Homo sapiens: one gene and its partners. The protein of the gene in region 1 interacts with the protein of each later gene in a pairwise test. Each region holds a gene or a part of one and is shown on either strand. Other genes may lie near its edges.

Region 1 (3,235 bases):
TCTCCATTGCTTTTGTCTTTCATTAATCCCAGAGTTTATAGTTGTTTTTAGTAGGGAGTAGCAGAGAGAGACGAGTCTACACCACCTGGTCAGGATCACTGTTATTCCACCAAAACCAAATCAGATAAAAAAGTGAGGGCTTATCTAGTTAAAGAATGGTGTGGTACCCAGAAAACCCAATATGTAGCTTCCATGTCATTTATTTCTGAATCACAACCTCTAATTTCTCTTCTAAATCTCCAACTCTGAGAAATATAGCACAAAAATAGTTTGATTTAGTCACAGTATCTGGAGGAATGAATGCACAGTATCAGGAGACTTATTTAAATCCTTACTGTGTTTATTCAGTCAATTGGGGTAACTATTATAATGCAAGAATTAAAACTTCTTTATTAACATGAGAAGAATAAAAGTACTAAGTATAAACATTGACGGGTTCATTTATATCAAAATTATAAACATTTATGAAAGTTTTTGGCACTGCAAATAGTGGTTTTCAAATTTAATATATTGTTTTTGTAATGTTTTCATAATTATTATTTAAGTGAAAATTCTTTCTTTTCTTTTAGAAATTTCTGTCCATCATTTCACCATCCTCATGGATTGGTGTGTTTCGTAACAGCAGTCATCATCCATGGGTGACAATGAATGGTTTGGCTTTCAAACATGAGTAAGTTGTTTTGTATGGCGCTATATAACAATATATATATAAAGGATAAATTCAGAAGAATAATATGAATAAATCTATGTGGAATCATAGAGATGAAGAAAGATGTGGAAAGTTAGTGAAATGCTGACATAAATATTTTACAATAGACCATAGTAGTCCATATATTTCAACCGCTCATTGGTCAGCTAGTAACCTTCTTGATTATCAGGTGTCCAATCTTTGGCTTCTGTGGGCCACATTGGAAGAAGAAGAGTCTTGGGCCACACATAAAATACACTAACACTAACGATAGCTGACGAGCAAAAAAAAGAAAAAAAAAATCACAGAATGTTTTAAGAAAGTTTACGTATATGTATTGGGCCGCATTTGAAGCTGTCCTGGGTCACATGCGGCCCGTGGGCAGCGAGTTGGACAAGCTCGAGCTGGACTATCAGGGAATTGCAGTGCTTGTTTTTATTAAAAAGCCACACTTACTTTTTTTCTTAAGAATATCCTCAAAGCACAAGAGTAGTGCTGTTGGCATATTGCTATAATTTTGTTATTAGTAGTTATTGTTGTCAATCTCTTATTGTGCCTAATTTATAAATTAAATTTTATCACAGTTATGAATGTGTAGAGAAAACATAATCTCTCTATAGGTTCTGCACTATCTGCCGTTTCAGGCATCCACTGGAATCTTGAAACATATCCCTCGTGGATGAAGGGGGACTACTCTGTTGAGTGTTCAGAATAATGACTCTTACTAATATTATGAAAAATTTAATTACCCTTTTCCATGAAATTATTTTCTTACAGTACATGGAAAATGCTTTCGTCTCATGAATCATTTGCTTAAAATGTAACAGAATATGGATTTTTCTCCATTACAGGATAAAAGACTCAGATAATGCTGAACTTAACTGTGCAGTGCTACAAGTAAATCGACTTAAATCAGCCCAGTGTGGATCTTCAATAATATATCATTGTAAGCATAAGCTTTAGAGGTAAAGCGTTTGCATTTGCAGTGCATCAGATAAATTGTATATTTCTTAAAATAGAAATATATTATGATTGCATAAATCTTAAAATGAATTATGTTATTTGCTCTAATAAGAAAATTCTAAATCAATTATTGAAACAGGATACACACAATTACTAAAGTACAGACATCCTAGCATTTGTGTCGGGCTCATTTTGCTCAACATGGTATTTGTGGTTTTCAGCCTTTCTAAAAGTTGCATGTTATGTGAGTCAGCTTATAGGAAGTACCAAGAACAGTCAAACCCATGGAGACAGAAAGTAGAATAGTGGTTGCCAATGTCTGAGGGAGGTTGAAATAGGAGATGACCTCTAACTGATAGAACGTTACTTTGTGTCGTGATGAAAACTTTCTAAATTTCAGTAGTGGTGATGGTTGTAACTCTGCGAATATACTAAACATCATTGATTTTTAATCATTTTAAGTGCATGAAATGTATGCTTTGTACACGACACTTCAATAAAGCTATCCAGAAAAAAAAAAAAAGCCTCTCCTGGGATTATTTGTGACTGCATTTATTCTCTAAAGTAATTTTTAAAGATTAGCTTCTTTATAATATTGACTTTTCTAATCAATATAAAGTGTTTCCTTCAATGTACTGTGTTATCTTTAATTTCTCTCTATTGTATTTTGTATTTTGGGGGATTGAAGTCATACAGAAATGTAGGTATTTTACATTTATGCTTTTGTAAATGGCATCCTGATTCTAAAATTCCCTTTAGTAATTTTTGTTGTTATAAATAGAAATACAACTGATGTCTGCATTTTGATTTTATATCTACTTATTCCACTGATTTTATATATGTAAATCTATTATGTCAACTATTGATTTATTTCTGGGTGTTCTATATAACGAGCAATTTTATCTGCACATGATCACACTTTTATTTTTTTAATCTATATGCTATAACGTAGTTTTATTTTCATTTATTTTCACTGGCTAGGGTTTTATACCCATAGTTGAATAGAAGGTACAATCAAAGTTCTGTGTGTATCATATGTATCGTTTTCTGATTTTGGCAAAAAATACTTAAACATATTATTCATATTTACAAAGCTTGGTGTTGTTTTCATCCTATCTTTCTCATATCGAAGCAGTTTTATAATATTCCTATTTTCTAATAGATTTTATCAATTGTAACATTTTTATTAATTTGTAGCAGTTGGAATGATATATGTTGTATTTATATAACATTTTATAAACTACTTTTATTTTTTCAAATGTTAAACCAGCCTTTGTTTCTGAAATAAATCCATGGTGATCATTGTATATTTCCCTCATAAAATATCAGTGCTGGCCGGGTGTGGTGGCTGATGTCTGTAATCCCAGCACTTTGGGAGACTGAGGCCGGTGGATCAGGAGGTCAAGAGATTGAGACCATCCTAGCCAACGTGCTGAAACCCCATCTGTACTAAAAATACAAAAACTAGCTGGGTGTGGTGGTGTGCACCTATAGTCCCAGCTACTCGAGAGGCTGAGGCAGGAGAATCACTTCAAACCAGGGGTCGGAGGTTGCAGTGAGCCGAGAGTGCACCACTGCACTCCA
Region 2 (4,310 bases), on another chromosome or scaffold:
CTCATTAGTAAACAATTACACAGTGTCAGTGAGCAACAGGGAATGTCCCACAGCATGGTGTGAGGTTAGTGGGGTGAGGGGATGTGGTCCACTGAGGACTCCAGGCCCTTTTTAAAGAGATAGTCACTACTCATTTCAGCCTACTCTGGCCTGAGAAATGGGTACACTGTGGCCAGAACCATGGATTTCTAAAGAAATGTCCCAAATCTGGATTTTCCATGTGAAATATCCTGTTTTGAATATTGGGAACTTATTCAGAATTGTTTAAAAAGTGTATATGCCAATACTGCTTGAGCCAAAAGACACATTCACAAGCTAGATTTGGCTGAGAGTCCCTCTGTTCATGACCTCTGCATTAACCCCTTGAATTTTCTAACAATCGGACCTGACTTTACCGTGACTCAGCGGGGCCAGCCTTCCTTCCCCATTTTCCTCTTGGTTCCCTCCTAACTTCACCTGAACTTGTAACTAGAGACAGAAAAGAGACACCCTGCAAAGGGAAACATACTCCACACTAGCTAATGAAGCCCCTTCTTTTATGCTTTTATCTTCCAGATATTTGGGTTCTTGGTCTGGACCATGGTAGCCGCCACCCACATAGTATACCCCTTGCTGCAAGGATGGGTGATGTATGTCTCGCTCACCTCGTTTCTCATCTCCTTGATGTTCCTGTTGTCTTACTTGTTTGGATTTTACAAAAGATTTGAATCCTGGAGAGTTCTGGTAAGAACCAGCAGCATGGCTCTTCCTGGGTGGACGTTCTGGGTTGGGTGAGGACAATTGGCCTTTCTGGGCAGGGAGGGATCCTGGGCTAGGCTCCTATGGAACCAAGACTTTTTATCTTACCATTTTTACTACCACGCTAAAATGAAGACATTTATCTGCAAGCGTAAATAATTCCTGGTATTCCCCTTCACTGGCTTCCCTGTTAGGAGAATACACAATGACCTGTGATCAAGCATATTCTGATGTGTTTCCCCTAAATTTTCTTCCTGGTAAAATCCTTGGAGCAACACTGAAGAAAAAGCTAGTAGGAAAAAAATCACTCCATTCTCAAGGCCCTAACACAATCCCTGCGACAGGGTATTTCTTCCATATCCCACATGAATTATATGCAAAGTATATATACATATATACGTATATACATATGTATATATGTATATATATGTATATATATACTTTAATTGTACTCTACAAATAATTTTGGATGTAGATGCTTTCATTTAATATTACATCACTAATTTTTATTTATCACGTCATCTCAAAAAACCATTTAAAACTGTTCCACACTGAACAATTGAAGACATATTTAAAAGTACAGAATATTGTATTATAGGCCCTCATGTAGCCATAACCCAGATTCCAGCATTATCAAGACCTTACCACATTTGTTTCATCTAGCCTTTGTCCCCACTAAGGAATTTTAAAGCAAACACCAAACATCATGCCATTCTATTCCACACACTTCAGTATGTTTCCAAAAAAACTCCGCAAACTTTCTCACATTATCACATGTATACGAAGTAAACAATTCCTCAGCATACCTAAGACAGTATACAGTGGTCCCCCATCTCCGGAGGATAAGTCCCAAGACCCCTAGGGGATGCCTGAATCCTCAGAGAGTACTGAACTCCGAATTTGCTATGCATGCACTTCTTTTTTCTTCTTCACAATTTCACAGATAGACAATTCATTCTTACTGTAGATCTTAACAACCTCAGCATATTTTTTTTCTTTCCTTATTAAGCTGAAAACTTATACTTTTTAACTTAAAGAAAGCACCCTATGACTTCTCTTTGGCATATCCAAATTGCCAGCATCACTACTCTTGCAATTTGGGGCCATTATGAAGTAAAATAAGGATTCTTTGAATGCAAGCACTGCAGTGCCACAACAGTTGATCTGATAGCCCAGATGAGTACAAAGCGACTAACATGGGTGGCACAGACAGTGTAGACATGCTAGACAAATGTCTGATTCACATCCCAGGTGGAACAGGGCGGGACAGTGCAAGATTTCATCATTGTACTCAGAAAGGCACACATTTAATTGTTAATTTCTGGAATTTTTCATTTAATATTTCAGACCAAGATTGACTTTGCGTAACTGAAATATACTGATCTTTATTAGTCTGCCATTGCTTACGACATAGATATTACATTAAAAACACTGTGTATTAGTCTATTCTCACATTGCTATAAACAACCAGAGACTGGGTAAATTATAAAGAAAAGAGGTTGAATTGACTAGTTCCTCATGGTTAGGGAGGCCTCAGGAAACTTACAATCATGGTGGAAGGTGAAGGCTAAGCAAGGCATGCCTTGCATGGCAGCAGGAGAGATGGGGGAGGGGGAAGTGCCATACTTTTAAACCATCAGATCCCATGAGAACTCATTCACTATCATGAGAACAGCATAGGGGAAACTGCCCCCATGATCCAATCACCTCCCACCAGGTCCCTCCCTTGATACATGTGGATTACAATAGGAGATGAGATTTGGGTGGGGACAAAGAGCCAAACCATATCATTATACCACTGGCCCCTCCCAAATCTCATCCTTCTCACATTTAAAAATACAATCATGCCTTCTCAACAGTCCCCCAAAGTTTCAACTTATTCCAGCATTAACCCAAAAGTTTAAGTCCAAAGTCTCATCTAAGACAAGAGAAGTCTCTTCTGCCTATGAGCCTGTAAAATCAAAAAGCAAGTTAGTTACTTCCAAGACACAATAAGGGTACAGGCATTGGGTAAATGCTCCCATTCCAAATGGGAGAAATTGGTCAAAACAAAGGGGCTACAGGCCCCATGCAAGTCCTAAACCCAGCTGGGCAGCCATTAAATGTCGACATTCCAAAATCTCCTTTGACTTCATGTCTCAGATTCAAGTCACCCTGTTACAAAGGGTGGGCACCCAAGACCTTGGGCAGCTCCACCTCTGTGGCTCTTCACAGTACAGCCCCTGCAGCTGCTTTCACAAACTGGCATTGAGTGTCTGTGCTTTTTCAAGGTGACCAGTGCAAACTGTCAGTGAACCTACCATTCTGGGGTCTACAGGACAGCTCTTCTCACAGCTGTACTAGCCAGTGTCACAGTGGGGACTCTCTGTGGGGGGTCTGACCCCACATGTCCCTTCTGCACTGCCCTAGTAGAGGTTCTTCATAAGGGCTCCACCCCTGCAGCAGACTCTGCCTGTACATCCAGTCATTTCCATACATCCTCTGAAATCATGGCAGAGGTTCCTAAACCTCAATTCTTGCCTTCTGCATGCCTGTAGGTCCAACACCATGTGTAAGCTGCCAAGGCTTGAGGCTTACACACTCTGAAGCAATGGCCCAAGCTGTACCTTGGCCCCCAGCTGCTGGAGCTGGGGCAGCCGGGTTGCAGAGTGCTGTGTTCCAGGACTGTGCAGAGCAACAGGGCCCTGAGCCTGGCCCACAAAACCATTTTTCCCTCCTAGGTCTCTGAGCCTGTGATGGGAGGGGCTACTGTGAAGATCTCTGAAATGCCCTGGAGATATCGTCCCCTTTGTCTTGGGGACCCTCATTACTCATGAAAATTTCTGCAGCTGACAGCTTGAATTTCTCCCCAGAAAATATGTTTTTCTTTTCTAACACATGATCAGGCTGCAAATTTTCCAAACTTTTATGTTCTGCTTCCCTTTTAAACATAAGTTCCAATTTTGGACCATCTCTTTGTGAATGCATATGATTGTACACTTTCAGGAAAAGTCAGGTCACATCTTGAATGCTTCAATGCTTAGAAATTTCTTCTGCCAGATACCCCAAATCATCTCTTTTAAGTTCAGAGTGCCACAGATCTCTAGGACAGGGGTAAAATGCCACCAGTCTCTTTGCTAAAGCATAGCAAGAGTGACCTTTATTCCAGTTCCCAATAAGTTCCTCATCTCCATCTGAGACCACCTCAGCCTGGATTTCATTGTCCATATCACCATCAGCATTTTGGTCAGAATCATTCAACAAGTCTCTAGAAAGTTCCAAACTTTCCTACATCTTCCTGTCTTCTTCTGGGTACCCCAAACTGTTCCAACCTTTGCCCATTATCCAGTTCCAAAGTTGCTTCCACATTTTCAGGTATCTTTATAGCAGTGCCTGACTCCTGGTACCAATTTTCTGTATTAGTCTGTTCTCACACTGCTGTAAAGAACTACCTGAGGCTGGGTAATTTATAAGGAAAAGAGGTTTAATTGGCTCACAGTTCTGCATGGCTAGGGAGGTCTCAGGAATCTTACAATCATGGTGGAAGGCGAAGGGGAAGCAAGGCACACCTTACATGGCAGCAGGAGTGAGAG
Region 3 (4,916 bases), on another chromosome or scaffold:
GAATTGCTTGAACCTGGGAGGTGGAGGTTGCAATGAGCCTAGATCTCGCCGCTGCACTCCAGCCTGGGCGACAGAGCGAGACTCCAAAAAAAAAAAAAAAAAAAAAAAAAAAGGTGGTTCCGCGTGACTGAACAGGTTCTGTAGGGCCTTTGGGAATAGTGACACGCAGGGTACATTGTGCATAATATAACTTCAGGACTAAGTGCTAGGAAGAAAATAAAACTGGACCGGGCGCAGTGGCTCACGCCTGTAATCCCAGCATTTTGGGAGGCCGAAGCAGTCGGATCATGAAGTCAGGAGTTCAAGACCAGCCTGACCAACATGGTGAAACCCTGTCTCTACTAAAAATACAAAACTTAGGTGGGTGTGATGGCACGCGCCTTTAATCCCAGCTACTCAGGAGGCTGAGGTAAGATAATTGCTTGAACCAGGGAGGCAGAGGTTGCAGTGAGCCGAGATCGCCCCACTGCACTCCAGCCTGGGCAACAGAGCGAGACTCTGTCTCAAAGAAAAGAAAACTGGGTGATGTGGAAAAGAATGTACACAGAAGGCCTCACTGAAGGGGTGGCATTTGAGTTCGCTGACAAGACGGGGCTGGCCACAGGGCTATCTGGGAGCAGAGCATTCCAGGAGGGAACAGCCACCACCAAGCCCCTGAGGTGGTAACAAGCTTGTTGACTTTGAGGAACATCAGGGAGGCCAGTGTGAGACAACGGAGTGACAGGTTTGAGGTGTGTAGGAAGTAGAGCCCACAGTCTTGCTTTGCCCCCACTGGGAAGGAAGGGCACAGGGATCCAACCACAGAGGGAAAGCTGGAAGCTGGACCACCTCCTCCTTTCAAGGTAAGCAGTGATGCGCATCCTTACACAACCTTATGGGACCTGTCTGCCCTTGTGGAGATGGGAGCAGGGGAAGACCAAAACCGTGGATTGTGCTAAATGCTCCAGATGTTGTTCTCAGTGTACACTGCCAGGGAGGAGCCACTGTTATTCCGACTTTACACATGAGCAAACTGAGTTCAGAGAGGGGAGACCCTTTACCTAAGGTTGCAAGCTTAGTAACAAATGAACCAGCCTCCAACCTAGGTCCACCCACTGGCCAGCATGGGTGCTGTTGGTGTATCTGCCCACTTGTGAAGCTATCAGAGCCCTCATGGCATTGGGATTCAGTTGTCCATCACCCTCTATAAGACACACACAACAATAGCATTGTGTGCTAGCAGGTCATGCAGTGGAGGCTGCTGTGTTTGCTGGGAGGAGAGATGACTGGGCTGTGGGTAGGAGTCTGCAGGGGTAGAGGGGTGGCCAAATAGAGATGCACAGGCTTCCTTTGTCTGTCTTGGCTGCCACATGGGGCCTTGCTGAGCCTGGAGTGGCCATTCTGGATGTATGGGGGAGGTGTGCTTCCCCTTGAAGGTCCCTGGGCACCTGGACTAGTGGAGGCAGGCTCCTGGCTGGCTCCCTCACCAGGTAGATAGTTCAGGCTGGCCCACGTGGATCACTCTGCCCCTTCCCATGGCTGAGGGCTGCCCCCTCTAAATATAGCCCAGTGGGCTGAGCTCAGGCCTATTTTAGGCCAAGGCTGGGAGGCAGCCAGGCCTTCCCTGGGCTCACAAAGGAGCCACTGCTGCATTTGTCCAGTCCTGCTACTGGATGCCATCATTGGCCCCCGACTGCCCACTGCTTGCCATGCCTGAGGAGACCCAAGAAGGTAGGAGAGGGTGACCATGAGGGAGGGCAAGGCCTCAGTCCTGTGACCTTGTGGACCATGGAGAGACCCACCCTCTGTCCCACTGACCTCACTGTCTTGAGTAGTTAGTTACCCATTTTCATGCTCCAGCTCCAGTAAAAGGACCTGCCCCCTGTGCAGGGAGGAAAAGCCTGCCATGCCTGGAGCCCCTTGTCACCTCAGGCCCTGCTTCAGTTTCCCCTGCTGGGGACATCAAGGAGGGATGGGAGAAGCTACCCAGTTAGGAGTGGGTCAACTACAGGCTGTGCTCAGGTGGGTGTGGGCATCCGGTCAGCTGCCTGGCCGGTTCAGCTCTTAAGGAAGGAAGCTGGGATTGGGGTGGGTAGTGGTTCCAGAAAGCATTTGGGTACCTGTCCCATGGACTGAAAAGTAGTTAGGCCTCTGGCCTCCCCTGACTTGGGTCTAAATATCCCCAACTGCCTAGGGTTGGGGGTCCCTTGGCCTGGTCAGACAGAGACTCAGCTAGTCAAGAGCTTGGTGGCCACTCACCTAACTGCACCACTGCATATAAGAAGTACTGATGCTCAGAGGGGCCAGGGCAGCAGGAATCTAGGAAGCTACAGGTCCAGTACTGGCCAGGACGTAGGACTGTCTGCTCCATGGCTCCATGTTATGGCCCATGACAGAGCATGGCCCAGCTAGCAAGCTCCTCTTATCACATTTTCAACTTTTTTTTTTTTTTTGAGATGGAATCTCGCTCTGTCACCCAGGCCGGAGTACAGTGGCGTGATCTCGGCTCACTGCAACCTCCGCCTCCCAGATTCAAGCAATTCTCTGCCTCAGCCTCCCAAGTAGCTGGGATTACAGGCGCCTGCCACCATGCCTAGCTAATTTTTGTATTTTTAGTAGAGACGGGGGTTCACCATCTTGGCCAGGCTGGTCTTGAACTCCTGACCTCGTAAGCCACCCACCTCAGCCTCCCAAAGTGTTGGGATTACAGGGGTGAGCCACCGCGCCTGGCCTCAACTTTTTTTTTTTTTGTCACCCAGGCTGGAGTGCAGTGGTGCGGTCTCGGCTCACTGCAACCTCTGCCTCCCAGATTCAAGCTATTCTCCTGTCTCAGGCTCCCAAGTAGCTGGGATTACAGGCATGTGCTACCATGCCCGGCTAATTTTTGTATTTTTAGTAGAGACAAGGTTTCACCGTGTTGGCCAGGCTGGTCTCAAACTCCTGACCTCAGGTGATCCACCCACCTTGGCCTCCCAAATTGTTGGGATTACAGGCGTGAGCCACTGCCAACATTTTCAACATTGCAGGAGAGGGGCCTTGCCCCTGGTAGGGGGAAATGTTTACTTTCATGCATGTGTGTGTGTAGAGAAGGGTCTCCCTGGTCTTGAACTCCTGGCCTCAACCAATCCAATCCTCCCACCTTGGCCTTTCTTTTCTTTTTTTTTTTTTTTTGAGATGGAGTCTCGCTCTGTCGCCCAGGCTGGAGTGCAGTGGCGCGATCTCAGCTCACTGCAAGCTCCGCCTTCCGGGTTCACGCCATTCTCCTGCCTCAGCCTCCTGAGTAGCTGGGACTACAGGAGCCCGCCACTACGCCTGGCTAATTTTTTGTATTTTTAGTAGAGATGGGGTTTCACTGTGTTAGCCGGCATGGTCTCGATCTTCTGACCTCGTGATCCACCCACTTCGGCCTCCCAAAGTGCTGGGATTACAGGTGTGAGCTACCGCGCCCGGCCAGCCACCTTGGCCTTTCAAAGTGCTGGGATTAGAGGCATAAGCCACTGTGCCTACCCTCTTTTGGGATCTTAACAATAACATTTACTGTGTGTTTTTCCTGTAATAAACAATTCACATTCAATTTAGAAAGTGTGAGAAAAGCACAACAAAGTACAAAGAGGGAAATTTTTTTTTTTTTTTGAGACAGAGTCTTGCTCTGTCGCCCAGGCTGGAGTGCAGTGGCACGATCTTGGCTCATTGCAAGCTCTGCCTCCCGGGTTCATGCCATTCTCCTGCCTCAGCCTCCCGAGTAGCTGGGACTACAGGCGCCAGCCACCATGCCCAGCTAATTTTTGTTTTGAATTTTTTAGTAGAGACGGGGTTTCACTGTGTTAGCCAGGATGGTCTCGATCTCCTGACCTCGTGACCTGCCCACCTCGGCCTTCCAAAGTGCTGGGATTACAGGCATGGGCCACTGCGCCCGGCCCTTTTTTTTTTTTTTTTTTCTGAGACGGAGTCTTGCTCTGTCGCCCCGGGTGGAGTGCAGTGGCACGATCTCTGCTCACTGCAACCTCTGCCTCCCAGGTTCAAGTGATTCTCCTGTCTCAGCCTCCCAAGTAGCTGGGACTACAGGCGCCTGCCACCATACCTGGCTAATTTTTAAATATTTTTGGTAGAGACGGGGTTTCACCATATTGGCCAGGCTGGTCTCAAACTCCTGACCTTGTGATCCACTTGCCTTGGCCTCCCAAAGTGCTGGGATTATAGGTGTGAGCCACTGCGCCCGGCAGCAGGGAATTTTTTTTTTTTTTTTTTTTTTTTTGGAGATAGGGTCTCACTCTGTTGCCCAGGCTGGAGTACAATGGCATGATCACAGCTCACTGCAGCCTTGACTTCCTGGACTCAAGCAACCCTCCCACCTCAGCCTCCTGAGAAGCTGGGACCACAGAAGCATGCCACCACACCAAACTAATCTTTAATTACTTTTTTGTTTTTTGAGACGAGGTCTAGCTCTGTCGCCCAGGCTGGAGTGCAGTGGCTTGAGCTTGGATCACTGCAAGCTCCGCCTCCTGGGTTCAAGCTATTCTCCTGCCTTCAGCCTCCTGAGTAGCTGGGACTACAGGCGCCCATCACCATGCCCGGCTAATTTTTTGTATTTTTAGTACAGATGGGGTTTCACCATGTTGACCAGGCTGATCTTGAACTCCTGACCTCGTGATCCGCCCACCTCAGCCTCCCAAAGTGCTGGGATTACAGGTGTGAGCCACCATGCCCGGCCCTAATCTTTGATTTTTTTGTAGAGATGGGGTCTCCCTACGTTGCCCTGGCTGGTTTCAAACTCTTAGACTCAAATGATCCTCCTGCCTTGGCCTCCCAAAGTGCTGGGATTACAGGCATGAGCCACAGTGCCCGGCCCAAAGAGAGAATTTAATATGACCTTCAACCCACCACCCAGACATAATGACTGGCAGCACTTGCTTGTTTTTGTTGTACTTGCTTTTGAG
Region 4 (4,310 bases), on another chromosome or scaffold:
CCATCAGGGTGGGTATTCAGCAGGAACCTTGGAGCAATTGCAGAGGAATGAGTATGCTCAGAAGTTCTGTAGCTTTCATAATGTTCAATTCTTCATGTAAAACTACTAAAGATCATGACTTGACACTGTTGATACCATACAGTTGTGAACAACAGTTCTCAGAAAAGGAATTTGGAGTAAAGAATTTATTCCAGTTAACGGTTTGCAAACCAGGGAAACACAGCCTCCGGTGTAAAAGGAAGGTGTATTCCAGAGAAGAAAGGGAAGGCTCAGATTTTATAGCAAAAGTTCCCACCCAGGTTTCCAGTCAGGTCTGTTTGGGTAAATAAAGGATTCAAATTCACTTAGTTCTGATTGGTGGATACAGCTGAACCCTGATTAGCTGGTACAGCTGAGCCCCGATTGGTCATTACAGCTGAGCCCTGATTGGCTGAGGCAGATCTCAAAGATAAAAAGGTGTGGGTTTTCAAGGAACTCAGAAGATGCGTGTGACCCCCTAGTCAGTAAATGGCCACTTGGCCCTACTTTAAATTTAGAGCCAGTTAACCACTCAGGACCCATCTTGAAGGACGGGCTCTTTCAGGGTCACATTTGTTCTCATAGTATATTGAACTATAATCTTATATAGAATTAAGAGTTGCCTTCCCCAAACACAAGCAATTAATGTCTCCAAGCCTGTGGGTATAAGGAGTTTATAAAATCTACCTCATGTCTTTGTCATGCACATTGAACAAGATGACGATGTAAAATGTTTGGCCCATGACTGCACTTAGTAAATGTTGATTATCCTCAATTCATATGCAGGGATTACTATCCCCATTGTACTGATGAAGAAATTGAGGCTTGAGAAGTCACATGACTTTCCCAAGACTGTCAAAATATAACAGCAATAACCACAGCTGCCATTTTTGAGAACTGACTTTCCCAGGCACTATTTGAGCTACTCTATTATGTTATGTCATTTCATCTTCACAGCTGGTACTGCTGGCAAACATAGAGAAAACAAATATGAATTAAGATTTCACTAACTTATTTTGCCATACTCATAAGGCAAATTAATATTTTAATAAAACGTTGTGCAACGTGAGAATTATGTGTCCTTCATACATGGGGATAAGCCAGGGTCTACCTTGCTAAGTCACTGGGGCCTGTGTGCATCAGTTCACATCAGATCCCAGAGCTTCAAGCTCAATGCAACTTAAATTGACAGCCAGGGCATATTTTGATTTTGTGTCCACTCTAAGGAACAGAGGCTTGTTGGTCAACTGACAAGCATGAATCTGGGGGCCATGAGTTCATCTCAGAAAGTCTCCCGCTGTTTGAAATCCCCACGCTTGCTGTCTTGCCCTCACCCCTGTCTGTCGAAGCCTTCGTGGTAAGCAAGCTTGGACTTCATGAAAGTGAGTCTAACTCTGACATTGAAATAGTGGCTGTGTCTTGTCTCCCCAGTCTTCCCACACCTGGTGAAGGAGCTCAACGCAGGCCTTCATGTGATGATTCTGCTGCTCCTCTTCCTGGCCTTGGCCCTGGCTCTGGTCAGCATGGGCTTTGCCATTCTTAACATGATCCAGGTCCCGTACCGGGCAGTCAGCGGTCCTGGGGGCATCTGCCTATGGAATGTCCTGGCAGGTAAGAAGTCCCTTAGGGAGAGAAAATTATGTCCACACCATCATAGGGCTGGGCTCCAAGTAGTTGGGCAGAAGGTGTGAAGGAACTAAAATGCCCCACTGGAGCCTTGACCTTCCTGGGTCTAAGACCTTCTTGATGGGCATGGAATGAATGTCCTCTTTTTCTTTTTCTTTTTTTTTTTTTTTCTTTGAGACAGGGTCTCACTTTGTCACCCAGACTGAAGTGCAGTGGTGCGATCTCAGTTCACTGCAGCCTTGACCTCCTGGGCTCAAGTGATCTTCCCACCTCAGGCCCCCAAGTAGCTGGGAGTACAGGCGTGCACCACCATGCCCAGCTAATTTTTTGTATTTTTTATAGAGACAGGTTTCACCATGTTGCCCAGGCTAGTCTCAAACTCCTAAGCTCAAGGGATCCACCTGTCTTAGCCTCCCAAAGTGCTCAAGAATTTCCTCTTTAAGTTGCAGAGTCTGTCACAACAAAGAAGCATCTTATTAGAGTACGTGAATGGCTGAGGGCTTAGAGCAGTGAAGAGAGATCGAGGTGAAAGAAGAAGCCAGAAGACAGAGAGCTGGAAGTAGGGAGAGGTGGGGGCCCTGAGATGGGAAAGAGATGGAGCTGGTGCTGCAGCTAAGGCTGGGAGGAACTCCACAAATGACAGAAGAGAAGGGTAGTGTGAGCAAGAGGCCATTCGTGAAAGGCTCCTCCATTCAGGCTCTGGGTTGAGAAGGGGAAGTGAGTGCCATCTAGTTGCCAAGGTCTTTGGTGTTCCCCCCACACACACACTTGGGCATATTAATGCAGACGTGGCTCACTGGCTGTCTCAACTCTCCCTCCTCTCACCTCCCCAACACCTTCACTGCACCATGCCCTTAAACTAGATGCAACTTACTGAGCAACCACTAAGGGCTGGGCAGGGACCTGGAGATTTTGCATGCATTGCTTCATTTAAATCTCACCACATCCCTATGGGAGGTATTATTAGACCCACAATTACAGATGAAGAGCCTGAGGCTCAGAGAAGTTAAACAGTCGCACCACAATGAGTGGCAGAGGTGGTATTCCAACCTAGGTGTAACTGATTCTAAGCTCTTTATTTTTCCACAGATCCATGCTCTCATTTATGACCATCATGACCTGTTTTCCAAGCCAAAAACTACAAGATGTGTGTGTGTGTGTGTGTGTGTGTGTGTGTGCGCGCGCATGTTGATTTGGGAGTATATTGATGCACAGAAATTAATTCACATTTAATTATGCACTTAACAAATCATCTGTAATGAAAATAACAGAATCTTGTGAAATGAGGGCTGTCACAGAAAACTCAGGTCAAATATTCAAGGTACCATTAGAACAATAATCCCTCGCTATGATTACCTTATACAAGAATAATATAAAAACAGGTAATGTTATTTTATTATGTATTATAATGTATATCAATCAATCAATTATTATGTATTTGCCTTTGTTTGCAGATGGTAGCCACCCTGTAGAATTGTTTACATACATGGCTTACCCTCATCAAGACTACAGGTGTCTTCCTCATCTGCATGAATCCTCACAGAGGCTGTCATGTAAAAAGTGCTCAACGCTGCTTATTAAATAAATATTTATCTCTGTCCATTCCTTTCCTTAGAGAGATAGCACTCTCAGACTCTACTGATGAGAGTATTAGCAACAGGCAAAAAAGCCTGGGCAACACAGCAAGACCCCATTTCTAAAAAAAAAAAAAAATTAGCTGTCCATGGTGTCCGGTGCCTGTAGTCTCAGCTGCTTGAGAGCTATAATCCCAACACTTAGGGAGGCTGAGGTGGGAGGATTGCTTGAGCCTGGGAGGTCCAGGCTGCAGTGAACCGTGATCATGCCACTGCACTCCAGCCTCAGCCAACAGAGCGAAACCTTGTCTCAAAAAATAAAAAATAAAAACAGGCAAAGCTTTATGTCTTTTGACAAAACTTTATTTCTTGCCACTGAGCTTAAAAAAACAACAACACTGTAGTGTCAGAAGGCAGAAAAAGGTGAATAGCCTTTGAATATCTTTTGACTAAACAATTCCATGTTTGAATTTATGCTAAGGAAATACTGGACAAGAGAACAAGGATGTACATAAAATGGTATTTGCTGTAGCACTTTATAATATCAAAAAATTAGAAGTAATCTAGACATCCAGAAATAAGGTCATACTTACATAAATTATAGTGTGTGACCTTATTTCTATAATTTAGTAGAGACTGTTTAGTCTCTACTAAAAATACTTACATAAATTATAGTGTGTAGTGCATAAAATACTATGCACTCATTTATAGTCATGCTGTAAGCCTGGCACGGTGGCTCACGCCTGTAATCCCAGCACTTGGGGATGCTGAGGCAGCAGGATTGCTTGAGCTCAGGAGTTCAAGACCAGCCTGGGCAACATAGTGAGACCTCATCTCCACAAACAAACAAACCAACAAAAATCAAAAATTAGCCAAGCATGGTGGCATGCACCCATGATCCCAGCTACTCAGGAGGCTGAGGCAAGAGGATCGCTTGAACCCAGGAGGTCGAGGCTGCAGTGAGCCGTGATCATGCCACTGCACTCCAGCCTGGGTGACAGAGCAAGACCCTGTCTCAAAAACAAAAATAAAAACAGACAATAAAGTCATTCTGTAACAGAATATGTAACAACACGTAAAAATGTCCAAGTG
Region 5 (4,310 bases), on another chromosome or scaffold:
CTGAGCACAAAGAAGCCCAAAAGTCCATTTACATCCTTTAACAGTTTCAAATAATCAGGGACCATGACTCCAGTAGCTATTCCCGGCCTCCTCTTGACCACAGTTTATTAAGCTGTTGACCTCAACTTCATACCACCCTCTGCTTTGTGAATCTAGGGCAGAACTCTAAACTACATTTCTTCTTTGCAAGCTGACTGCCCATTGGGCTTTGCCAACAAGGGAGGGAGACTGGAAAGCTGGAAGAGGATGAAGGGACTTGCTGCTTCCTGTTGATTCCTTTTCTTGTCTGTCACTTGCCACAATAGTGCCTCACTCTGGCATTAATAGTTGGTCCCACTTGTTCCAGTTTATGCTTTCCTACTCTGCTAGAATCAGCCTTATGCACTTCCTTAAAGATACCAGTATCCTTTCCTCAGATCTGAGTCCTGAGCTCCATAGAGTCTCTCCTCCACATTTCTAAACTATAGTAAATTCTCTTTATTCTCTTTTCTCTGTTCCCTTGTCCTAGGAGTGATAGCTGCTTCCTGCTGTTACTACTTCTTATCACATAAGTAGGACTCAGTGTCCTCTTTTTGCCTTTTCAGTTCTTCAACATATGGTTAACATTTTTCATATGAAAATTTCTCTTGATGTTGATGCTGACAACTTTAAAAATCAAGTCCAATCTCTCTGTTAAAATAACGGATGCATTTTCAGACTCCTGCCTGGACCCTGACTGATAAAGAAATTGTCACTAAGAATGGGATCCTGGTGAGAAAACTTTCAAAGATAGAATTTGGGGGCATCGGTTTGGTAATTTCTTTAGCTCTTTGCCAATGGGAAATAATCTAGTAACCCACAACATGTAGTGGCATCACAATCAAATTGATACATTTGGTTGATTGTGATAAAATTATTTCTGAAGCTGTGTGCTGGAGGACCAAGTGGCTAAAGCGCTTGACTGTTAATGGCAGTAATGATGACTACAGGGACTGAGGGAGAAGTGAGAAGTGAGATAGGTGCTTCTTTGTTCACTGGAGCACTGACAGAAAGCAAATGACAAACTCAGGTCTTCAAAGCGTTAGATCGGTCAAGTCTTAGAGAATCAAAAAGTTTCCATGGTTCTAAAGCACTTCATTTTGTGTAGCCACGGAAAGACTTGCTAAAAATTGGACACAGTTTTATGTTATGTTATGTTATGTTATGTTATGTTATGTTATGTTATGTTATGTAATGTTATGTTATGTTATGTTATTTTTGAGACAGAGTCTTGCTCTGTTGTCCGAGCTGGAGTGCAGTGGCATGATTTTGGCTCACTGCCTATAATTCCAGCACTTTGGGAGGCTGAGGCAGGAAGACTGTTTGAGCCCAGAAGTTCAAGACCAACATGGGAAATATGGCAAAACTCGGTCTCTACAAAAAATAGAAAAATTAGCCAGGCATGGTGGCAGGTGCCTGAACACAGTTTTAACTGCGATAGTAATAGAATTACCTAGCCTTTGTCAGTGTCTCATTTAGAATATTGTTTGGAAAGAAGTAGAACCCTGAGACTTGGAATGGGGACATCTAGGTAGACATGGACAGAGCTGAGAATCTTGAAAAAAACTCCAGTCACTCTGAGCCTCCATTGTTGACAGAAGCTGCTTACTTTTGAAAATTAGCCTTCTCTTGCTTGAAGATCCTGTAATAACCTCACCTAGGGTAGTTTCTTTGCAAAGGGCTATCCACACTTAAGAGCTACCTCTATTATCTTGTCATGAGGCCCAGATCTCTGCATGTTGCCTAGTATAGGGACAAAATCTGATCTGACTAGAAATAGTCTGTCCTTGAAAAGAATTGCAAAATTTTGCTAATTTATATCTGTGGAATCCTGAGGAATATATGTGAGGATGGATTGTAAGCCGGAGAATAGAATGTAACACTAGATCAGATCATATTTATTCATCTGGGTATATTCTCAAGAAATTCTGCATCTAAAGCGTTAACTCATACTTGTTTGTTTGATGGAAACTTGGACTCATTGGTGGCCTGTATTTTATAACGTTGAGATTTCTGTTGTTGTTGTTTTTAAACATTTAGGTTCAGAGGTACATGTGAAGGTTTGTTACATAGGTAAACTCGTGTCATGGGTTTGTTGTACAGATTATTTCATCACCCAGGTATTAATCCCAGTACTCAATAGTTATCTTTTCTGCTCCTGTTCTTCCTCCTAACTTCCACCCTCAGGTGGATCCCAGTATCTGTTGTTCCCTTCTTTGGGCTCATGAGTTCTCATCATTTAGCTCCCACTTATAAGTGAGAACATGCTGTATTTGGTCTTCTCTTCCAGGAGATGGAACAGAAATGTTGAGTGCCTTCTAATTTCCTTGTAAGTACTGCTTTATCAGCATTCCCCCACATTTTGACACATATGTCTTCATTTTTATTCAGGTCATAATTTAAAATAATTTCCCTTTTGATTTTTTTCTTGACCTCTAAGTTATTTAGAAGTTTGTTATTGAGTTTCCAAATATTTGGAAATTTTAAAGATATCTCTGTTACTGATTTATAATTTGATTCCATTGTGGTTAGCATACTTTTTATGATTTGACATCTTGTAAATTTATTGAGACTTGTTTTATAATCCAAATATATTCTCTCTTTGGTAAATGTCCTAATGCACTTAAAAATAATATATATTCTGCTATTATTGGGTGAGTTTTTTGTTTTTTTTTTTTTTTTTGAGACAGAGTCTCGCTCTGTCACCAGGCTGGAGTGCAGTGGTATGATCTCGGCTCACTGCAACCTCCGCCTCCTGGATTCAAGCAATTCTCCTGCCTCAGCCTCCAGAGTAGCTGGGACTACAGGTGTGCACTACCATGCCCAACTAATTTTTTTTTTTAATTTTTAGTAGAGATGGGGTTTCATCATGTTGGCCAGGATGGTCTCGATCGCTTGACCTCATGATCTGCCCGCGATGACCTCCCGAAGTGCTGGGATTACAGGTGTGAGTCACCGCGCCCGGCCGGGTGAGATGTTTTATAAGTGTCAATTAAGTCAAATTGGTTGATAGTGTTATTCAAGTTTTTGATGTCCTTACTGATTTTCTATATATTGGAGCTATCAGTTATTGAAGTTGTGGGGAGTATTAGAATTTCTGACTATAATTGTGGATTTATCTATTTCTCTTGGCAGTTGTATCAGTTTTTGCTTTATATTTTGAAGTTCTATTAATAGGTACATAAACATTTAGGATTATTTTGTGTGCATGATGAATTGACCCTTATATCACTATGAAATGGACCTCTTTGATCCTGGTAATAGTCTTTGCTCTGAGATCTACTTTGTCTGGTATTAATGTAGCTACTTCAGCTTTCTTTTGATTAGTGTTAGCATATACATCTTTTTTTCATCCTTTTACTTGTAAACTCTTTTTGTCTTTTTATTTAAAGTGGGTTTCTTGTATGCACCATATAGCTAGGTCTTATGTTTTTATCCAATCTGATAATCTTTGCCTTTTAACTAGGGAGTTTAAAACATTTACATTTAATGTGATTATTGATATTGTTAGATTTAATTCCACCATCTTGCTATTCGTTTTTTGTTTGTTTTGTCTGTTCTTTGTTTCTTTTCCCCTCTTTTATTTTACTAGTCTGTTTTTTGTTTCTTTTTCCCCTTTGTTCAGCCATCATTTACATTAGTTAAATAATTTATGTGATTCCATTTTATCTCCTTTGTTGGTTTATTAGCAATAACTTTTTTTAGTGGTTGCTTGAAAGTTTATAATGTATCTCTAACTTATCACCATCTACCTTCAGGTAATATTTTAAAGAGATATAAGAAAAGCATTATAATTCCTCACGTAGTTACCATTTCACTGCTATTTATTTCTTTGTATCAATCCAGATTTTTATTTGGTATCATTTTTCTTCTTCCCAAGGCATACTTTAATTTTTCTTGTTGTGCAAGTCTGTTGGTGATGAATTCTTTTAGCTTTTGTTATGTTTGAAAAAGTCTTTATTTTGCTTTGGAAAAATATAGGTATAGAATTCTAGATTGACAAGATTTTTTTCCTGTTAGTTCTTTAAAGATATTCTGCCTTCCATTGCTTCTTATTAATATTAAAAAGCTACTGACATTCTTATCTTTGTTCCTCTATGTGTAGTATATCTTTTTTTCCTTTTCTTTGGCTACCGTAGCATATCTTCTTTCTTTTTCTTAGGATTTTCTCTATATTACTGGTTTTAAGCAATTTGATTATTATGTGCCTTAGGTAATTTTCCTTGTTTCTTGTGCTTGGAGCTCATTGAGATTCTTGGGTCTGTAGGTTTTTATAGTTTTCAACATGTTGG
Region 6 (4,310 bases), on another chromosome or scaffold:
TGTAACTGTCCATTACCACTTACAATAATTATTAATCCATTTAATATTTCATTAAATACCTATGGCCATAATTTCTACTCTTGGTTTTACAACCTCTGAAGAGGTCTCTCCAATTACCTCAGAGTACTATAATGTGCTATAATTTCTTAATCTAATCAATGTTAAATGCCTGTGGTCATGATTTCTAGTTTTGGTTTTGTCATACCTGAAGACATCTCTCCATATGTCTTAACGTGTATCATAAAAATATTGAAAGTTTTCCATTTTAAATCATTTAGATCAGTATGTATAACACAAGACCCTATTATTTTCAGAGCCAGAAAAAATAGTCACTATGGAGTACTATAATCAGCTGGCCGATAAACACCAATTACTTACAGACTGTAGAATTTTAACTATTCTAACTCCTCATTTTTTTTGTTTGTTTGTTTTTTGTTTTTTGAGATGGAGTGTTGCTCTTTCACCCAGGCTGGAGTGCAGTGGCGCGATCTCGGCTCACTGCAACTTCTGCCTTCCGGGTTCACGCCATTCTTCTGCCTCAGCCTCCCGAGTAGCTGGGACTACAGGCGCCCACCACCACGCCGGGCTAAGTTTTTGTATTTTTAGTAGAGACAGGGTTTCACTGTGTCACCCAGGATGGTCTCGATCTCCTGACCTCGTGATCCGCCCGCCTCGGCCTCCCAAAGTGCAGGGATTACAGGCGTGAGCCACCGCGCCTGGCCTCTAACTCCTCATATTTTCTACTGAATTTGGTTTTTGCTCTTAGGTTCTTCCTAAGTATTTACTTTCAGAAACAATGGTGGTTTCTATTTATTGAGCCCTTATTATATTTGGCACTTGCTAAGTGAATGTTATGTGTATTATTTCTTTTAACCCTTTCAAACAACCCTTACAAGGTCAGTAGTCTTATAGTCCCTATTTGCAGATGAGGAAACAGGTTGGTTGAGAGGGATCTCTGTTGCTTTTAACTCTTGTATGGTGTGGGATCTAGTCAGCTGTCACGGTGTACAAATAAAGGGTGTAAGTCCTCCATTTTGCCACAGTGAGGCACCAAAAGCAAAGTAACCACATATTTATGAGCTGGTGAAACTGAAGTTGTTTCCACAACTTTAAAGGGCCAAGATTAGGCATTCTTGGGCTGGAAATTCAAATCCCCATAAGGAAGAGAGGCTGCCCACCTTGGTCAAACATTAAGGTAGGCTTTCTGTAGTGCTGTTTTTCAGAGCTGTCTGTTTCCATTTTACTCCATGTCAGCATCCACCCAGTTTCCCAAAGGAGACAGAGTTGGTCCCAGAGAGTCCCTCACATGTGACTGATTTGGGCAGGCTTGTGGGGTGGGGGATAGTGGTATTTGAAGTGGTTCATTCTTGTTCATGGTGCCCATTCTCCCCAGGATGCCACCTTGCTGTTTGTAGTTGATTGTAGCATCAATTCTAACTCCCTAAAAAGAGGAAGAGGTTTTTTGTTTTTTCAACAGATTTTACCAGTTGTTAAAGGCTATACTCTGGGAGCACAAAAATGCCCCTCAGTTGTATACAGTATACAGTTGTTTAATATACAGAAAAGCCTTGGACTGGGAGTCAGCACACTTGCATTCCAGAACTAGTGCTGCCATACATTTGCTGTTCCAATGACTGTGGGGCAGGCACTCAGTTTCTCCAGGGTCTAGTGTCCTCAGTGGTAAAGGCAGGAAGTTAGACTAGATGATCGCTGAGGTACATCCTAGCTCTAGCATTCATTGGTTTCATAATTCTGAGCCTAAAGAATTTTTAAAAAGCTGCTATTGATCCCTCTCAGTTGGGTAGAGATCAGTCTCTTGAATTATCTGCCTCCCTGGCTTTATCATCACAAGAAATGATTTCAAAGGTTTCTGTTTTGTTTTGTTTTAAATCTTAGAAGTCCAGAAAGGATCTCATAAATGTAGTGAAGTTCTGTAAAAGTATGTTGTTATAGAGCACTTATAAGAGGAAATGTGTTTTATGAAATCAGGTAGGAAATGGAATATTCTAGCACACAGAAGTTAGTGAAAGGAGAGAGGTTCTGTGGTCTTCTTCTCCCCCTTTCATTTATGTAGTTACATTCCTGGAATCATTCTAGAATTTGCCTCTTGAGAATGCGGATTTTCATACCCATTAACAAAGGAAGAATAAAGGAGGAGAATTTATGACTAAACACAGTTGTAGAAAAGTCTAGGAAAGGAAGGAGCTAGGAAGGGAATGTACATATGTGTACAGTACTGCTTCTTACTGTCTGGCTTGGATCAGGAGTGAGCATGCCTGAGTTTGGAGATGTGCTGACTCAGAGCAGTGATGATGCTCAGCACTTTTGGGACAGCTTATTACAAAATAATACAATACTGCTCCATGGAAGTAGCCGTTTTTGACTGTCGGTATTATTTCAGTACTGGTAGCTAAGAACACATCCCCCTCAGGAACAGTAATAGCTGCCTTGGTGCTCATTTCAGTTACATCATAGATGGTCAAGAGTCATACCATTTGCCATGGTGAACCTTCCTCTACCTTTTTTTAAACAACAAACAGCCATGGGTTTTGTGAGTGGTATGGAGAAAATTGTCTGAAGTATCTTGTGTATATTAAGGGGGTGGCACACAACAATGAATGAGACATAGTAAAGGGTGTGTTGTCATTTGCCCTTTCAGGCAGTAGCCACATCTAAGGAGGTTTATAGTTCTAGGATCTATGGCACAGTAAAAATGACAAAATAAATTTCCATGTTTCAGAGGAACTTGGTCTCAAGTTGAGATTATAGAATATACGCATCCAAAATGATTTATGGTCACTTAAAAAGTGGGATACAAGGACAGGTGTGGTGGCTCACACCTGTAGTCCCAACACTTTGGTAGGCTGAGGTCGAGGATTGCCTGAGCCCAGGAGTCAAGACCAGCTTAGGCAACATAGTGAGGCCCCATCTCTACCAAAAAAAAAATTAGCTGTGTGTGGTAACCTGCACCTGTAGTCTCAGTTACTTGGGAGGATGAGGCAGGAGAATTGCTTGAGCAGGTGGGAGGATTGCTTCAGCCTGGGAGGTCGAGGCTGCAGTGAGCCGTAATCATGCCACTTCACTCCAGCCTGAGTGAGACTGTCTCAAAAAAAAAAAAAAAAAAAGATATAACTGACATTAGATGCTGTTGTGATTAACAAAATGTAAATCCATATAAAGCATTACAGTGACATTACATCTTATGTAGGATTGGGTTCAAAAGTCAGGGCTTGGCCGGGTGCACTAGCTCACACCTGTTATCCCAGCACTTTGGGAGGCCGAGATGGGTGGACCACACAAGGCCAGCCTGGCCAACATGGTTAAACCCCCTCTCTACCAAAAAATAGAAAAATTATCTGGTTGTGGTGGTGCACTCCTGTAACCCCACCACTCAGGAGGCTGAGGCATGAGAATCACTTGAACCCAGGAGTTGGAGTTTGCAGTGAGCTGAGATGACGCCACGGCACTCCAGCCTGGGCAACAGAGTGAGACACAGTCTCAAAAAAAGCCAGGTCTTAAGATGAAAATCAGAGTAGACAAATCATCTAAGAAAATCTCAGGACAGCAACTGAATACCCACATGCCATTTCTCCATAAGCCCGGCTCATCTGTTCTCTTTTGCAGCGGAAAGGCTGAGGTGGATGGATCACTTGAGGTCAGGAGTTTGAGACCAGACTGGCCAACATGGCAAAACCCTGTCTTTATTAAAAATGTAAAAAAATTAGCCGGGCATGGTGGTGGGTGCCTGTAACCCCAGCTGCTCGGGAGGCTGAGGCAAGAGAATCGCTTGAACCTGGGAGGTGGAGGTTGCAGTGAACCGAGACCGAGCCACTGCACTCCAGCCTGGGAGACAGAGCAAGACTCTGTCTCAAGAAAAAAAAAAAAATTGCTCTTTAGTTGGTGGAAGTGCTGCTGGCTTGTGTTTAGGAGTCACATTGAAAAATACATAGCTTTAAAAGGCCATATCCCCATACGTGCAACAGCATAGATGAACCTTGACTTTGTGCTAAGTGAAATAAGCTAAACACAAAGGACAAATATTGTATGATTCCACTTAATGGTGTACCTGGAGTAGTGAAATTCATAGAATGGGGAGGTATTTGATGGGTACGGAATTTCAGTTTGAGAGGATAAACAAGTTCTGGAGAACAGTTAGTGGTGATGGCTCCACAACGGTGTGAATGTACCTAGCCACTAAGCTATACCCTCACAAATGGTCAAAATGGTAAATTTTATATTACATGTATTTTGCCAGCCTAGGTGACCAGTGAGACTCTGTCTTGAAACAAACAAACAAACATTGTAAATGA
Region 7 (4,292 bases), on another chromosome or scaffold:
CTCCTCTCTCTCTCTCTCTGTCACACACACGCACACGCGCACACACACACACACAGATACACGCGCACACACACACACCGTTTTGCCTGGCAGAACAGACTTATAACTTGCATAATACTGCAGCAGCCCACACTGTACCTCATCTCCATTTGGGTTCCACAACAGAAGGGAGCTGGAAGGAAATCAGCGACAATCTAACTCCACATGACAACCTGGCTGGACAACGAAACATCCAGCGGGGAGAAAGACACTGGAAATTACCCATACCTGAGCCCCATCCCAAAACACCTGAGTCAGCTTCTCTGACCATGGCCCAGGCTAGGTCATTTGCAAAGCTCTTGAGTGATTCTAAAGAACCACTGCTGTGAAAAATAAAAATGATTTCAGCAAAGAGAGAAAGGTGAAACTATTTTATTGGCACTGGCTGTGATGCTGGCTGTGAGCAGATGCTGGCTGTGGGCAGAACAGGGGAGAGGGCCATTGAGAGGCCCTTGTGACTGGAGAGTCCAATCAAACGTAAAGTGTGTGACAGGGAGGGACTCCTCCAAATTCTGCAGGTCTCTCCAGACTGGGGATCCCTAACACAAGAGGAAGTCTTATGCCCCAAGTGCCAGAATTCCAGGAAACTCATGCAATGAAACCAGTCCTCTTGTGTCAGAGTTTGCAGCTAGAAGCGGTTCAAGGGATGGAGGACTCTCTGGGAGCTGGAGTGGTACGCTGCAAAGAACCTAAATATGCCATAACTTCCTTTACTTCCCTCTCCAAGAATTTCCAATTGCTCTTCCAGCCTATTCTGCCTGACAGGTTAGAAAGTTTTCAATAGTTTTCAATAGAGGTTCGTTTACTTGCATTGAATTATCTCATGAAGGTCAGCTTGATTCGGGCACATTAAAGACAGAGTCGGAAGAACACATTTCCCTAAGTTTTATTCTAATGTACAACACATGTGATCATTTGCGATGGGGTCTAGGCAGACAAGGCAGGTAACAGGGAGTCCTTCCAACCAGGGGTTGGAACAAAGGAGGCTTGATTTGGTGACTCTTGAGACATTTGGCTCACTGCTGTGATGCTGTGAGAGATTAGCTGTGCAATGTTTGGGCTCCTTAAAAGGAAGTTTATTTAAAATAAAACTTACCTGCACGTATGTAACACTGTAGACACAGATCCTTCCCACAGTATATTTAATCTCTGCAGAATTCACTGGGAGGGGAGGGGAGCCAGTGGGACCTCTTGGCTATTACACAGGTTGGCACTTCCAGAGAGAACAGTCTTGGCATCACAGGCTTCAGGCATACTCAAAGCTCTTCTCCCTTCTGATTCCAGTTTCTCCATGCCCTGCAGGGCCTCTTGGGATTATTGTATTCTGGAAAGCAAACAAAGTTGGACACTGTCTCTTTAAATAATAGAGGCTGAGAACCTCTCAGGCCACCATGACATATCCCAGCATTGGACCAGCCCCTGAATAAACTGGAAAGACGCCTGGTCTGGCTTCAGTTACAGGGAGCACCACCAGGGAACATCTCGGGGAGCCTGGTTGGAAGCTGCAGGCTTAGTCTGTCGGCTGCGGGTCTCTGACTGCCCTGTGGGGAGGGTCTTGCCTTAACATCCCTTGCATTTGGCTGCAAAGAAATCTGCTTGGAAGAAGGGGTTACGCTGTTTGGCCGGGTGAGTTTTATTGGCAAACTGTGCCTCTGGGTGATGTGTGCCTATGCTTTACAAGAATTGCCTAATTTCCCACCCCCTGCAAGCCGCAAATGAAAAGGATTGCAGGAGAGATGGTGCATTTGTGTTGGAATTGACTGGAGATTCAGAGGGCTTTTTATATCCTTGGTTAAAAGGTGGATATATACTCTGGCTGGGGAGGTGGGGGGCCATCTGAGAGCATCTAGAAACCCTAATGCATCCAGATTGAAAGGAAGAAAGGAATCTAGATGCTTTTTCCCCCATGGAAAATAGCTGTGCACACACAGCTGGCAGGTGGCCTTGGTAAGCAGGTTAGGGAGAAGCTGCCACCTGTGGCAGAGCCTTGGCCAGCCGGGCTCTGGGTGTGGCAAGCCTGGTCAGCAGGCACTGAGTAGCACTTCCTCTGCCACCATTGAGAACCAGGCAGGAGGCCAGAGGCAGTGAGGGACAGATGGGTTGGGTTTACCTGTCTGGCAGTATATGGTGTGGCTGTGACCTGGGTGGTTATTGATTAAACTATTGGGTTCAAAAGAAAGGAAGAAGCGAGCTGTAGCACCCAATATATGCACTTTTCTGTATGTGTATTAGACTTTATTAAAAAGTTTATTTGAAAATCACAAAGGAAGGGAAAGAAAACCCTGAGTTAGATATGCTCATATTTCTAAAGTGCTTACTTAGAACAGTCCTGAGTATGTTGTGATCACATAAGTGTTGGTTAAATAAATAAATGTCCAAATGGCATAAAACAAAGTAATAATTTCTAGAGCAAATCTAACTTATAAAATGACCTGTGGAGGAAAGAAAACACTGCCATGTCTTTAGACTTTTTTTTCTACTTGCATATGCACTTTCATTTATAAATCTTTATCTATCTATCTATATCTATCTATCTATCTATCTATCTACCTACCTACCTACCTACCTATCAGAGTTACAAGCTACTTTAGTGCAGAGGTGGTCAGGTCTTCCCTGAAAGGTTGATGTGAGAGTTAAATGTGATATAATAATAGTGGTGGCAATTTGGGCACTGGGCCCTTATTATGTTGCAGACACGATGTTAACTGCTTTGTACATATTGTCTCCTTCAATCACCACCATAAACCTTTAAAGCAGGCATTACTATTTCCTTTTGCACCTGAGAAAACTGAAGCTCAGTGAACTTGAGAAATTGCCCAAATTCACAACAAAAGTAAGCAGGGTGATTAGGTTTGTTGGAGCCCAGAGCCAGAGTGCCTAACCACTGCACCATACTGCCTCTCACAGACCATGCATATAAAGTCCAGGCAAAGTGCTTGGCATATAACGGGCACTGTAAATGCAGTGTTTACAAGTACACTTCATTTTAATCTGATAACACGATAGTTTTAAAAAGATCATTGTTTGAAGATCTTTTTCAAATTTATTTTTACTTACCGTAAGAATATACAATTAGCTAAAATAGCAGCTCCTTTCAAATCGTAAAATAATATAGAATTATTTGAATCATTGAGAGTGATGAGCTTCTATGACACAGTACACTAGAGGTAGGGAAGTGTGTGTGTGTGTGTGTGTGCGCGCGCGTGCGTGAACTGCTGCATTTTCAGGCAGAAACCTTTAACATCCACATTCCTGCTCCCTGTCCCGTGCCTCAAGGCTGGCCTGCGCACGGGAGTCTCAGTTGGGCGCGCCTCTGCCAAGCCGAGACTGAAGGGGGCTAGCCTCTCTCCCTGTAACGCTGGGCGGGCCACGTTAGGAGGCTATGAATCAGCTGATTTCCTTGGCTGCTCCAACCCCACCTCAAATGGCCACCTCGCACCCGCCCGCCAAACCCCATGGCCAGGACTCCAGCCAAGGCTGACAGCCAAGCCCGACTGCTGCAGGAACACTTTGCCTAGAGCTTATTCGGTGGTAGTCTGGTTTTGCCTAGGCTAGGAGGAGCCCAATCCCAGACCATGCTATCCAGTAGTCGGCCGGACTTTTCTTCCCCTAATTCGCACCCAAGAGGAGCCCGCTAGATCAATCCCCGCCAATCCTAGGAAGCTGGCATGCTTCGTAGGTGCAGACAGTAATAGCGGGGACCGGCGCGGGGCAGGTGTGTCCGGCTAAGACGCCAGGACAGGGCAGGGGCTCCAGGACCCGAGAGGAGAGGGACTTCTTCCAGCGCTCAAGCGCCCGCTGCCCTCTATTAGTGGGAAAGGAATCCAGCCTCAGCCCCGCGCGGGCGCGGTCGGCGTCGGCGGGCCCAGAAGCCCAGCCCTGGGCATCCGCTGAGCTACATTTGGCTGGGTCTTCCCAGAGTGGGCTGAGGAGCCAGTTTCTCGGTCAACACTAGGTCTCCACGGGGCCAGGGGAGAAGGGAGGTGGGAGGTGAGAAAGCTCAGCCGCCTCTGGTTTCGAGTAAAAGTCGCCGCGGTTTTGCAGGGACCGACTTTTTCTTGAGGCGCATTTAAGGCCAAGTGACTGTCTCCTGCCCTCCCTCTCTCCTGCCCCCTCTCCTCCCTGAGTCCCGCCCTCCCGCACACGCTGACCCAGGGACACACCCTACTGCAGCGACGCAAACAGGGCGTTGTTCCCGTTAAAGGGGAACGCCAGGAGCCTCCCACTGCCCCCTTGCTTCGCGCGCGCGCAGC

What was found.
Region 2: the proteins of KLRC1 (region 1) and MALL interact in binary tests that used the Homo sapiens proteins (3 or more experiments, as listed by UniProt).
Region 3: the proteins of KLRC1 (region 1) and LSMEM2 interact in binary tests that used the Homo sapiens proteins (3 or more experiments, as listed by UniProt).
Region 4: the proteins of KLRC1 (region 1) and CLRN2 interact in binary tests that used the Homo sapiens proteins (3 or more experiments, as listed by UniProt).
Region 5: the proteins of KLRC1 (region 1) and CGRRF1 interact in binary tests that used the Homo sapiens proteins (3 or more experiments, as listed by UniProt).
Region 6: the proteins of KLRC1 (region 1) and VTI1B interact in binary tests that used the Homo sapiens proteins (3 or more experiments, as listed by UniProt).
Region 7: the proteins of KLRC1 (region 1) and PMP22 interact in binary tests that used the Homo sapiens proteins (3 or more experiments, as listed by UniProt).

Annotation. Positions count from the first base shown.
Region 1 is NC_000012.12:10,444,967-10,448,201, reverse strand, and holds the end of KLRC1 (NKG2-A/NKG2-B type II integral membrane protein), read left to right. Parts: intron 1-569; coding exon 570-670; intron 671-1,539; coding exon 1,540-1,651; 3' UTR 1,652-2,174; downstream 2,175-3,235. UniProt on the Homo sapiens protein: Immune inhibitory receptor involved in self-nonself discrimination.
Region 2 is NC_000002.12:110,088,016-110,092,325, reverse strand, and holds part of MALL (MAL-like protein), read left to right. Parts: intron 1-555; coding exon 556-723; intron 724-4,310.
Region 3 is NC_000003.12:50,277,462-50,282,377, forward strand, and holds the start of LSMEM2 (leucine-rich single-pass membrane protein 2), read left to right. Parts: upstream 1-1,625; 5' UTR 1,626-1,652; coding exon 1,653-1,710; intron 1,711-4,916.
Region 4 is NC_000004.12:17,521,415-17,525,724, forward strand, and holds part of CLRN2 (clarin-2), read left to right. Parts: intron 1-1,449; coding exon 1,450-1,629; intron 1,630-4,310. UniProt on the Homo sapiens protein: Plays a key role to hearing function. Required for normal organization and maintenance of the stereocilia bundle and for mechano-electrical transduction.
Region 5 is NC_000014.9:54,512,407-54,516,716, forward strand, and holds part of CGRRF1 (cell growth regulator with RING finger domain protein 1), read left to right. Parts: intron 1-4,310. UniProt on the Homo sapiens protein: Able to inhibit growth in several cell lines.
Region 6 is NC_000014.9:67,664,075-67,668,384, reverse strand, and holds part of VTI1B (vesicle transport through interaction with t-SNAREs homolog 1B), read left to right. Parts: intron 1-4,310. UniProt on the Homo sapiens protein: V-SNARE that mediates vesicle transport pathways through interactions with t-SNAREs on the target membrane. These interactions are proposed to mediate aspects of the specificity of vesicle trafficking and to promote fusion of the lipid bilayers.
Region 7 is NC_000017.11:15,262,527-15,266,818, reverse strand, and holds the start of PMP22 (peripheral myelin protein 22), read left to right. Parts: upstream 1-1,492; 5' UTR 1,493-1,665; intron 1,666-4,266; exon of another isoform or gene 4,267-4,292. UniProt on the Homo sapiens protein: Might be involved in growth regulation, and in myelinization in the peripheral nervous system.